Regions from separate parts of the Homo sapiens genome. Here region 1 is linked to region 2. Evidence: fine-mapped expression QTL. A gene starts in region 2. The other region holds a variant in brackets. All regions are shown on one strand. Distances are from middle to middle. Region 1 has its middle 380 kb from the start of ESRRG. Region 2 holds the start of ESRRG (estrogen related receptor gamma).

Region 1 (5,386 bases), 380 kb after region 2:
AATCCTCAGGTAACGATCCTTAGAGCACTGGTGTTTACGAGTCGCCAAAGGGGTGGATTGACTGAACCCAATCACATGTTTAAAAAGCCATTTCCTTGATTAACTTCCTCCAGGATGACTCCTCCCACTGTCCTCCCCATGACAGCCCACTGAGGTTAATCTCTCCTTTGTCTCTACTTCCATCCACAAACTGATATCATTGTATTTATGCTTTAATTATTATTAATATGACTGTCTTTGCTGCCTTTTGTGTAAAAGATGTTTTAGTTATTTTTTTATTCCTAGTGCCTAGCACACAGTAGATGCTCCATAAATACTAAATGAATAAACAATGATCAAGGAGAACATTTGCCTGCATCTGTTCCAATTCTCTGAAAATGCTTAAGATGAATTGGAAAATGGAAAAAAGCTGGGCTAGCCTTACTGCTAGGCTGTAGGCTACATACAGATGCTTTGCTTAGAAGGCACCTCTCCAGCCTGGGCAACATGGCAAAACCCCATCTCTACAAAAATTTTAAAAATTAGCTGGGTGTCGTGATGTGCACCTGTAGTCCCAGCTACTCAGGAGGCTGAGGTGGGAGGATCAGGATTGCGAATAGGGCTGAAGTTTTGGATTCCTATCCAGAACATGACAGTTCTTTACACTTTCACAGACCCATGAAGCTTATCCCTTCTCCTTCAACCCATGAGGATGAGGCTGCAGTGAGCTGTGATCTCACCACTGCACTCCACCCCCTCTAAAAATTAAAAAAAAGGCACCTCTCTATTATAAAACTCCTAAATTTACTGTTTACTCTTATGTGTACAGTTCTTGTAGGGAATAAAGTCTGTCATTTCCCAATCAGACTTAAAACTCAAAGGCTGACTTTCCGGGCAAGAAAATAACACTGACTTCATTTGACACTGATATGTAAATGCTCAATACCAGGCTTTGCCAGAAAGCTAAGAAAAAGAAAATGACAGCAGGAGAAGCCACTGTAAATGTAAAGGAGGGCTGCACAACCGAATGTCCTGTTTTCAAATTCCTGAGGAATTTTCCTAAGCTCTCATTGATTGTGTATTTCACTTTCAAAATGGAAATTTTATAATATTTAAGTATCGGGGTTATTGGGAAAGTTAAATGAGATAATGCATGTGATGGCATAATCCCTTGTCAAAGTAGGCAGCTGATAAAAGCAATTCTCCTCCCTCTCTTCCTTTCTTTCTTCCTAACTGCTTACCTTCCCATAAGAAAAGAATCAAGTTCATCGATTTGCAACCATGATCAATTTGTAAGTATTTCTTTTGGCCAGGCTGCTTAAAAAAAAAAAAAAAAAGATGATCTCAGGGATTAGTTTATGACCATGGTTCCTAAACTTTGCCACACATTGGAATCACTTGGAAAGCTTTTTAAAATCCTAATGCCCCAGTCACACCCCATAGCAATTAGTCAAACATCTGAGGGTGGGAACCAGGCAATAGTATTGCTTTACAATCCCCAAGTGATTCTAGTGTGCTTCAAAGTTTGAGAGTCACTGGCAAATGTAGGGAAATGGGCCTGTGGCCAGTTAATTTCATGGACTGGAGCCTGATGCAAATAAGGCTGAAGTGTTGGATTCTTGTCCAGAACATGAAAGTTCTTTACACTTTCACAGACCCATAAAGCTTATCCCTTCTCCTTCAACCCTCCATCAGCAAGCTCTTTATAAATGAACCCTAGACAGAGTCATCACAGTGAATTGACTCTCTGAGTACCAAAAAGCAAGTGAAAAAGTACATCATAAAACACTCATATTTATGGTATTTTACCATTTAGAAAGTGCTTTAACACCTGATTTTATTTACTCTTTACAACAAGCCTGCATAGCTGGCATTATTATTATGCCCAATTTATAGATGATAAAGCCAAAAAGAAAGCTTAGCTTGCTCAGGGACAAAGTGGCACATTCCAGTCTCATACTGAGATCCGGGATTCCAGAATCGATGCTCTTTTCCTGGAGCCCCTCAGAAGCTCCACTGATGATGGGCAAGTAGGAGTGTATCCACATTTGAAGGTTGCTACAGAGAAACGGTCTAGCTGCTCTATCAGATTAGGAAGGAAAACAGGAAGAAAAGGAGGGTGGAAGGGAGGGAGGGAAATACTGCTCATTATGTTTTGAGTTAAACAGGTTCCTTTCCAGCAGGCTTTTTCAAATTATTTAATGTGCCTACAATCATTCTAAGTTTCCAAAACTTATTATTTCCAAAGCGATTGAACAGTGAAACCACTTTTAACTCAGCATTTCTCAGGACTAACATCCCATGGAATGTGATTTGATATATGTTGCCATGGTTTTCCTCAGCTCCCTCAAGACTTTGTTAAAGTAGCACCCTCTTAGGGAGGACTACCTATGTCACCTGATTTAAAACAGAAACATCACCTTGCCCGCAGCCCAGTCCTCACCTACTTTCCTGCTTTATTCTTTTCCCCCATAGCCCTTAACACCTTCTAATACACTTCATAATTTACTCATTTATTTTGTTTACTGTCTCGTCTTCTATGTCTGTAAGCTCTATGAGGGCAGGGCATTCTTCAGCTATTTGTTTTTACATGGTGATATTTCCAGAACAGAGAAAAGTGCCTGGCACAGAGTAGGTGTTCAATAAACATGGAGTCCTAATGAATGACTGGATAACAAGAAATGTGCCAAGAAAGAAATGCAAATGAAGGCATCTTCTTCACAGTTAGGTGCCCTTTGAAAGTATCTTTTCCAATCCTACTTATCCCTCATGATGAGCTAATGAAGTGGATATTATTCCTACCTTATAGAAAAATAAAGTGAGAATAACAACAATTAGACCTGTGAGCAGAGCAAAAAAAAAAAAAAAGTCAAGTAAAAAGATGGTTACATTAGAATTAATTCTTTTTAATTTTCTATGTAATTATTGTGGGATAAAGCACATGTGCTAGATATTTCCAACAGT[A/T]TCTATGAAATCTAATATAATGTGGATAGCCATGAATTGTACCAAGGACCAATACATCAGCCCAGGATGCTATTTTCTAGCCACCAACACCAGACCAGGCTGAGATATAAAAATTCAGAAGATCTCTGGTGCAAAAATGGTCATCATTGTCTGGATTCAGATTCTCCATCAGTGAAACCATGATTCTGAGAAACATTCTCTAGAGTTCTAACGGCAGCCAGACTGTAACACAGGTGTTAGTTGGATCCTCCCCACAATTGTACAAGGGCTCCACTACACAATAACAATGCTTTGCATCCAGGTGGAGCTTTTCTCTGTAAAGGTCAAAGTGCTGTGAGCAATTCAAACATAAGCAGGGGTGATGATGGCCCATCAAGCTCAGAAAATGACCCAGTTGACCAGTTCCTCTCCAAACACGGAGAATAACAATGAAGTGGAGAATCCGTAGTAATAATGTTGGATGAATGCTCCGTTCCGTTACATTTTCTTTTTATCCAGAAAAAAAAAAAAACGCATTTGTGAAGTGAATTATTTTGGTAATGAAAGTGGTATTTATTAAACACACTAGAAACTGCAAATCCAAATAAGTATTTCCCTTCAAAATAGTCACTTGGGGAAGCTATGTAATTACTTTAGTGATCCTGAGATTGCTCTAGACATTCTGGGAATTCCTCTTTTAAAATCACCTTCATAGATGGTTTAGGACTCATACAGAAAACCAGTATCATTTCTCTAAGGCTGTACTTTATATGACAAAAATACATTTCATTCCCAAGCCAACTTGGGTGGTCAATATAGTCAAGATATCTTGTTAAAAGCACAGCATGCCAGGCTGACCCCAACACTCTATAATAGGTCAGGGCTGGAAATGGGAGTTTGTCTTTGAATGATGGATCACCCCAGGTGATTCTGTTAGGTGCCCTTTGACAGTATCTTTTCCAATCCTACTTATCCCTCATCTAGTTTTCTTCACAAACTGTGGGTTAGAGTGCCTTGCTGGAGGACAGGGTTGGAGGCTAAACCTTATCCTGAGCCAGTTAGTTGTATTAGCCCATTTCTGCATTGCTGTAAATACCTGTCACTGGGTAATTTGTAAAGAAAAGAGGTTTAATTTTGGCTCACATTTCTGCAGACTATACATGAAGCATAGTGCTGGCACCTGCTTCTGGTGAGGCCTCAGGAAGCTTACAATCATGGCAGAAGGTGAAGGGTGAGCCAGCACATCACATGGCGAGAGTGGGAGCAAGAGCGAGAAGTAAGAGGTGCCACTCTCTTTTAAACAACCAGATCTTGGATGAACTCAGAGTGAGAACTTACTTATTACCCCAAGGATGGCACAAAGCCACTCTCAAAGAATCGGCCCCCATGATCCAAACACCTCCCACCTTGGGGATTACATTTCAACAGGAGATTTGGAGGGGACAGACATCCAAACTATATCATTAGTCTTCCTCTACTTTATGGCCACAAAGCCTGAACCTCTAACATCTAATCATTCATTCACTGACATAGCATCTTTGGAACCCTTACCATTTGTTTTACAAAGAGTAACCTATTGGTAATGAGAAAGTCAAGCAAAAAGTGTTGACGGTTAGCCTAAAACATGCCTCTATGAGACACATCCTCTTTCTTGCCAGGTTCTTTTGGCCAACCTCATGACTTCAACTTTTTCTTTGGAGACAGAACAAAAAAGAATAAGGAGCACATGCTCCAGAATAAAACTGCCTGCAGTCAAACCCTTCCTGACCACCTAATCAGGTAACCTAAGGCAAGTTACTTAATCGGTCTGTGCCTCAGTTTTCCCCATCTGTGAAATGTAGCTAATACCTCCTAGGGATGCTGACAGGATTCAGTGAGACAATGTATATGCAATGTTTAGCACAGTGATCATAGCTTTCAACTAATATCAGTTATTATTTTTGACACATGTGTTAATGATCCTTAAATCATTAATTCTAGGTCAGAAATCTCAACCTCTTTCCTTACCATTAGTACATAGATGCCCATCAGCATTTCAAACTGATAAGATAGAAAATTGAATTAATTATTGGCCCAACTTCCTAAATGGTTCTAGCTCCTTGGCTCCTAGTCTTGGTTCAAAGTATCATCATCTGTAGGATCATTTAGTTTCCAAACCAAATCTATCTCAAATGCTTTCTCCTACCTCACTCCACCTCCCACATCAGCAAACACACACACCCACATGCATATTCATTTAGTTTATAAAGTCATGTTGATTCTACCTCAACAAGTTTTCTTTCCATTCTTGTGTGTGTATGTGTTTGTGGTTTAAAACAACATTTTATTTTTTTTTTTATTTTATTTGTTTATTTATTGAGACAGAGTTTCACTCTTGTTGCCCAGGCTGAAGGGCAATGATGCGATCTTGGCTCACCGCAACCTCTGCCTCCCAGGTTCAAGTGATTCTCCTGCCTCAGCCTCC
Region 2 (5,386 bases):
CCCTAAAACTGTATAACTCTGGTTTCATTTCTGTGTATACACACACGTGATGGGGTTTAACCCGGTACAATTACTATGAATATTAATAGCATGTATAAATTCTGTGGTTTATTAATTGAGACAGAGAGGCAGATGCGTTGCTTAGCGTTAGATCTTTCTGTCTGTCCAGTGAACCACGTAACCATCAGAACTGCATCCAGACAATAAATCTGTATTTTTTAAAGATGACTTTTAATTGAGCCCAAAAGAAAGCTAGTTTGAATCTTGCGCCAAAGCCAAAAGGACATGTGCCTTGACTTCATTTAAATGCATCTGCTTTAAGAGGCTTATCTAAACGAATTATTCAAATTAGCTATAAGAAGTTAAATTCAAGGAAACTACTTCAAAAAGAAGCCTCTGGGGGATTTTTAAAGTTTGTTTTCTTTATTTATTTACAAGAGAAAGTTCAGAATCTGGGCGTGCTTGGATAAGACATTCTTCCTGACACGAAGACGTCTTAAACTCTCCAATTCTACAGCCCGAAGTACACTAACCTTCAAACTACACTTGAGCGGGCAGTCTTACCTTTGTTTATTTTTCATTTTTATTTTTACACATCTTAAGGTTGTTTCTTCCCTTGAGTGTTTCAAACTGATGCAAGCACAGCCTTATAATCTTTCAGTTCCTCCTAAATCCATCTCTTGGCTAATATTCCCTGTGTGAGCATGGATGTGGGTGGATGTGCATGTGTGAGCGTGCATACACACACACACTCACACTCACGCTCAAACATACAGGAGCAGCCACTGAGACTGCAAGTCACTTTTCATCTCTTACTTAATTACAAAGCAATGCAATATGCAGTCACTAAGGACAGCTAGTGGACATCTACCTATAATGCACTACCTCATCTTCTAGAGTTTGATATTTTCTTCACAATCTATAGAGAGAAATGTTTGCCAAGGGCACTCTTTTCAGAATTATAACAGTTGGTATTACTGTAATGTGAAAGCAAAGCAATATAACTGACTCAACAGAAAGGGAGATAAACCAGTGACAGCTCTCGTGATATACTAACATTTTATCTTAACAGTAGGTTGAAATTAAGTTTATCACCTACTCATTTACACAAAAATGCCTAACTTACTTCTCGTACCCCCTACTCACTCCCCCCCCTTTAGTAATCTAAATATATATTTCCATGTGCATAAAGATATCCATAAATACTAATTAAACTGCTTGTAAGAACGAAAGTACTTTTCTATATTTTCTGGACACAACAAACGAGACAAATCCACACTCTGAGCAGTATTTAAGGGGAAAATTTTAAAGTCACTACTGTTTCTTCTTTAGTTTTTTTTCCCCCCTTAAATATTTATAATGTGTGAAAATCTCATGTTACTTAATGGACTGATTTGTCAGTTAAGTGCTGACTTAACGCTAACCATGCAAATAACATTATTCTAGCTCAGAATTGCATAGGGCTAGCTTTTAAATTGTTCTCTGAAGGAGAATTAGTAAATGTGCAATTTTGCCTCTAACTCTGCGCGGTAAGAAATGACAAGGAGCTGAAAATATCTGTCAAACTGCAAATACATAAGAGGCCCTCAATAGTATAAATCATTTTGAATATTGTATTTTAAAACATCTTTCCTTGGGAAAATGGGTCCTAGTAAAAGATGCATTTTAACAGTTCACTAAGCATTTGTGCCAAGTGCCTATTCTTAGCACCTGAATAAGAAGTGACTGTCACACAGCTGTTTTACTGACAGTCACTGAGCTTTGCCTCAAAGGTAACATTGTAGTCAGAGAACAATTCTCGACTTACTGAATTAGGAGATCACCCTCAACACAAAAGACACAAGACAGACACAAACAAGCAGTCGTGCACACAAAATACCCAGGGCATTACCTGAATCAGTGTGTAAAGATATAGTCTGTCCGCCCCCACCCCCGCACCCCCACGACGAGTTTAAAAAGGAAAGAAAAAAGGTACCTACTCTTCCTCGTAGTGCAGGGAAAAAGATTCAGGAAGGCAAAGTTCTACCGAATCCATGTGCGACCGGCAACCATTATTTGTGCACCCCAGCTATAAATCAAAGTTTCCTTGACAGAGCACAGTGCAATTAACACAAATGTTCTCCTAGTGACAAGCCTATAGGCACAGCCAGTTGGGACCAAAGCTCTCACACTCTCCTAATCAAGGACTTAAAGCCCCGATTGGAGCTTATTAATATGAAGTAGGGCTTTACATATGCAGTCCCACCGGCCCAGCCGCGCAGCCGATTGGGGGGCCTCTGCCCAATCAGGAGGGAGGCGACGGGAGGCTGCACGGAGCGAGAGGAGCCAGGCAGGTAGGCAGGGTGCAGAGAGCCGAAGGGGGCTGGAAACTGAGAGTGGGCAGAGAAAAAGGGAGCGGAGAAGGGAGCGATTGAAACGCTCCCAATACACACTCTCGGGTTTGATTTTTTTTCCTCCCTTCTCTCTCTTTCTTTTTTTTTTCTTCTGGGAAGCTACAAAAGAAACATAACTAACTTAACTCTCTAAGCACTGGAGGGATTTGCCTTTGATTTCTAACCTAAGATCTCTTTTGCCTTGAAAAGGAGAACTCACGCAGACTCTCAGTTAATTTGGGAAAGGATTCTGCGGAAGGTAGAGAATTAAGTTTGTCCTGCCGTTGTCTGTGTTTTTATTACACCGGGGGCCGCGGCTTATTTGGTGCTGTACTTTCTCATGTATTCCTAATCATGTCTTTTCCTGTTTTCCTGATGTATGCTGGGCATTAAAAATAATAATAATAAAGGCATTCTTCTAAATTGTTTGAGCATGTGAACTGGGATCGTCATCTCTGAGGTGGAATGCAGTTTTACACAACTACAGAAGAGGAGATAGTGACAATACAATTTGAAAGAATGCCTAAGTAAATTATATGTGTAAACCTTTCTATACCTGCGACTGTCTCTTTACATATAGATACAACGCATAGCTTTTCAAAACAACGGTAAACAGCCGCAGGACAAATTGGCTTCTTCAGTTTTAGGGGTGGGGAGTCTGAGGGCTGTGGGGGTAAATAGCGAATTAAATCTCTCTCGATGCATTTTGACAAAATAAAGACAGCATTTTTTTTTTTTTTTGTAGGGAGAGCATTACTAAACAGTGCACTAAAAGTATTCTTAATTATATGTATATATTTCAATACAAGCTTCCAAACTAGGAGGCATATAATTTTATATATGATTTTACCCAAAACATCCTGCTTTCAAATAAAACACAGTGTACACATTTGTTTCTATACATAAGGCACCCTATATGCTTTAAAAAAATCAACCCAGAAACATTTTATAAACCATCACACAGTCTGGTCACTATAAGAACTAGTTTCAAACAGATAATAATTTACAAAACTAAGAATTCTCAATCAAAAGTGTTCAAAAAAATAAAAATAAAAGGAGGATATAAGAGGACAAGTGTGTTTTTTCCTCCTTCAATTGTGTACACCGTGTCTTTAATTTCCATATAACAAAGAGTTTGCTTAGGTCCTATTTTAATCTACAGGATTTTTTTATACTAGCAAATGTACATTGGAATAGATACCAGCTATTTATGGCAAAGAGATAACTGCTACCTTATGGAGAGTGAAAAACCCACAATTTTGATATAATTCAGCTCTACTGCTTATCAACCTTTTACATCTTAAGTCCTACATGATAGAAATAGTATAATCTTTGAGATCAAAATAAATTAGTTCAGATATTCATCGTATGTTAAATTCACTAAATTAGGACTCAACTCCCTTAACCCTCTCAAATTTTCTAGGTCTTTAAAAAACCAAAACACTAAAATAGAGCAGCCACATTAAAATTCAGAATATAAAAATGACAGACATGATTTGGTCCCCCCACAGAAGAAAGCAATTTCACTGCCTTGTATTTAGCTATATCTAAGATATAGGCCTAATTCCTTTTATTTGTGTTCTAAATGCATACAAAGTTTCTAGATCAGAACTCACATAGCAAAAACTGTGCCTCAGAATACTGTATAAAAGCAGGTAGTAAAAGCTTAATTACCAGTAGCATTATGCTGTCTATATTGTTAAATGTGAACTCTGCAATTAAGATGTAAATTTGGTTGTGAGCAGTGAATTAAAAGAGCTTTGAGATGTAGAAGAAAATCCAAGCATTCTGCAGACACTGAGAGAAAAAAAAAATTGTCTATTCAATCTAAAATAAGACACGTAATCATTTTACAATTAAAAAATAAATAAAACAGGCATTTTGCAAAAGAAACATGATTTTTCTAAAATACACTCAAAGAAATATGGAAGCTAATACTGCATTACAAAGACAGAAAAACATCCTTTGATTCATATGATTACTATCGTGATTTCTGAATAAACTAAAATTCTCAGGGTAATTAATAGATTCAATTGCACATACTTTAAAAAAGATACACACACACACAAAAAAGAAAGAAACTTTCCTTCTTGGTTTGGCTATGGATATTTCTTTAAAAAATATAAATTATTTAATGTACTCAATGCATCTTAATGTACTCAAAGAATGCATTCCGATTTTGCACCGGTGCAGAATCCTGTACTGTGTTCAGTTTCTTTACATTATGCTGTGACAGAACCTCTTTATTACTCCTTTGAAATGGCTTTTTAAAGACAAGATTTGTAGTGTATTTACCGGTGGATCTCAAGTCACCAAATGTCGTACAAGTGATCTTTAATTTCCCATCATTTTCTTATTTCCCTTTGGGTACTTATTTGCCCTCATTATGATCCATTTGACTTCACTGGTGTATATTTTTAAAGATATTTAGACTCATGCGTAAGTCATTGTTCTGTGCTCACAGAGATACATGTACAAACATACATAGTGTCATCCCCACTGATTTTTCACTAACCATATTTCATCTACGCAAGGTGCAGTGTTCACTGAACTCGCTGCTTTCTGAGTGACCAGATGTGTACTAGGTTTGTAGACTTGGATATTTTCCCCTTGGGATCAAAGTATCACCTGTACAAGTCAAGGACCTAAAGACTGTACTTACTGTCTTGAATCCAGTTTAACCAATTTAAAATTTTTAAAAATCCTCTTCACTAAACTTGTGAGACAGCTTCCAGAATATTTTACAAATACACAGCTCAGTCATCTCAAGAAACTTCCCTGGTCCCAGATTTTTCTCACCTTGCAGGAGAAAACAATGGATAATCATGGGAAATAAATGTGCCATGAGTAATACTGAGCTTAAACCTTCAAGAATCTCAATTACAAAAAAAATCTGGAAAAACAAATAAACAAACAAACAGATAAACAGCCTAGGATACACATATATTCCCAGTCTATACACTTCACAATCTTACCACAAGGAGTCTACCCAAATCAAGAAAAACTGAACCAAA

What was found.
Region 1: its variant is fine-mapped to the expression of ESRRG in pancreas (GTEx, PIP above 0.99).

Annotation. Positions count from the first base shown.
Region 1 is chr1:217,096,545-217,101,930 of GRCh38, forward strand. It overlaps a transcript of ESRRG not described here. Among named protein-coding and RNA genes, the nearest start is that of ESRRG, 380 kb to the left of the region's middle. The variant A/T (reference allele first, on the strand shown) is at 2,944.
Region 2 is chr1:216,721,265-216,726,650 of GRCh38, forward strand. ESRRG (estrogen related receptor gamma) reads right to left here and starts at 2,165. Exons shown (of 7, transcript NM_001438.4): 1 at 1,980-2,165. The coding sequence starts at 2,035.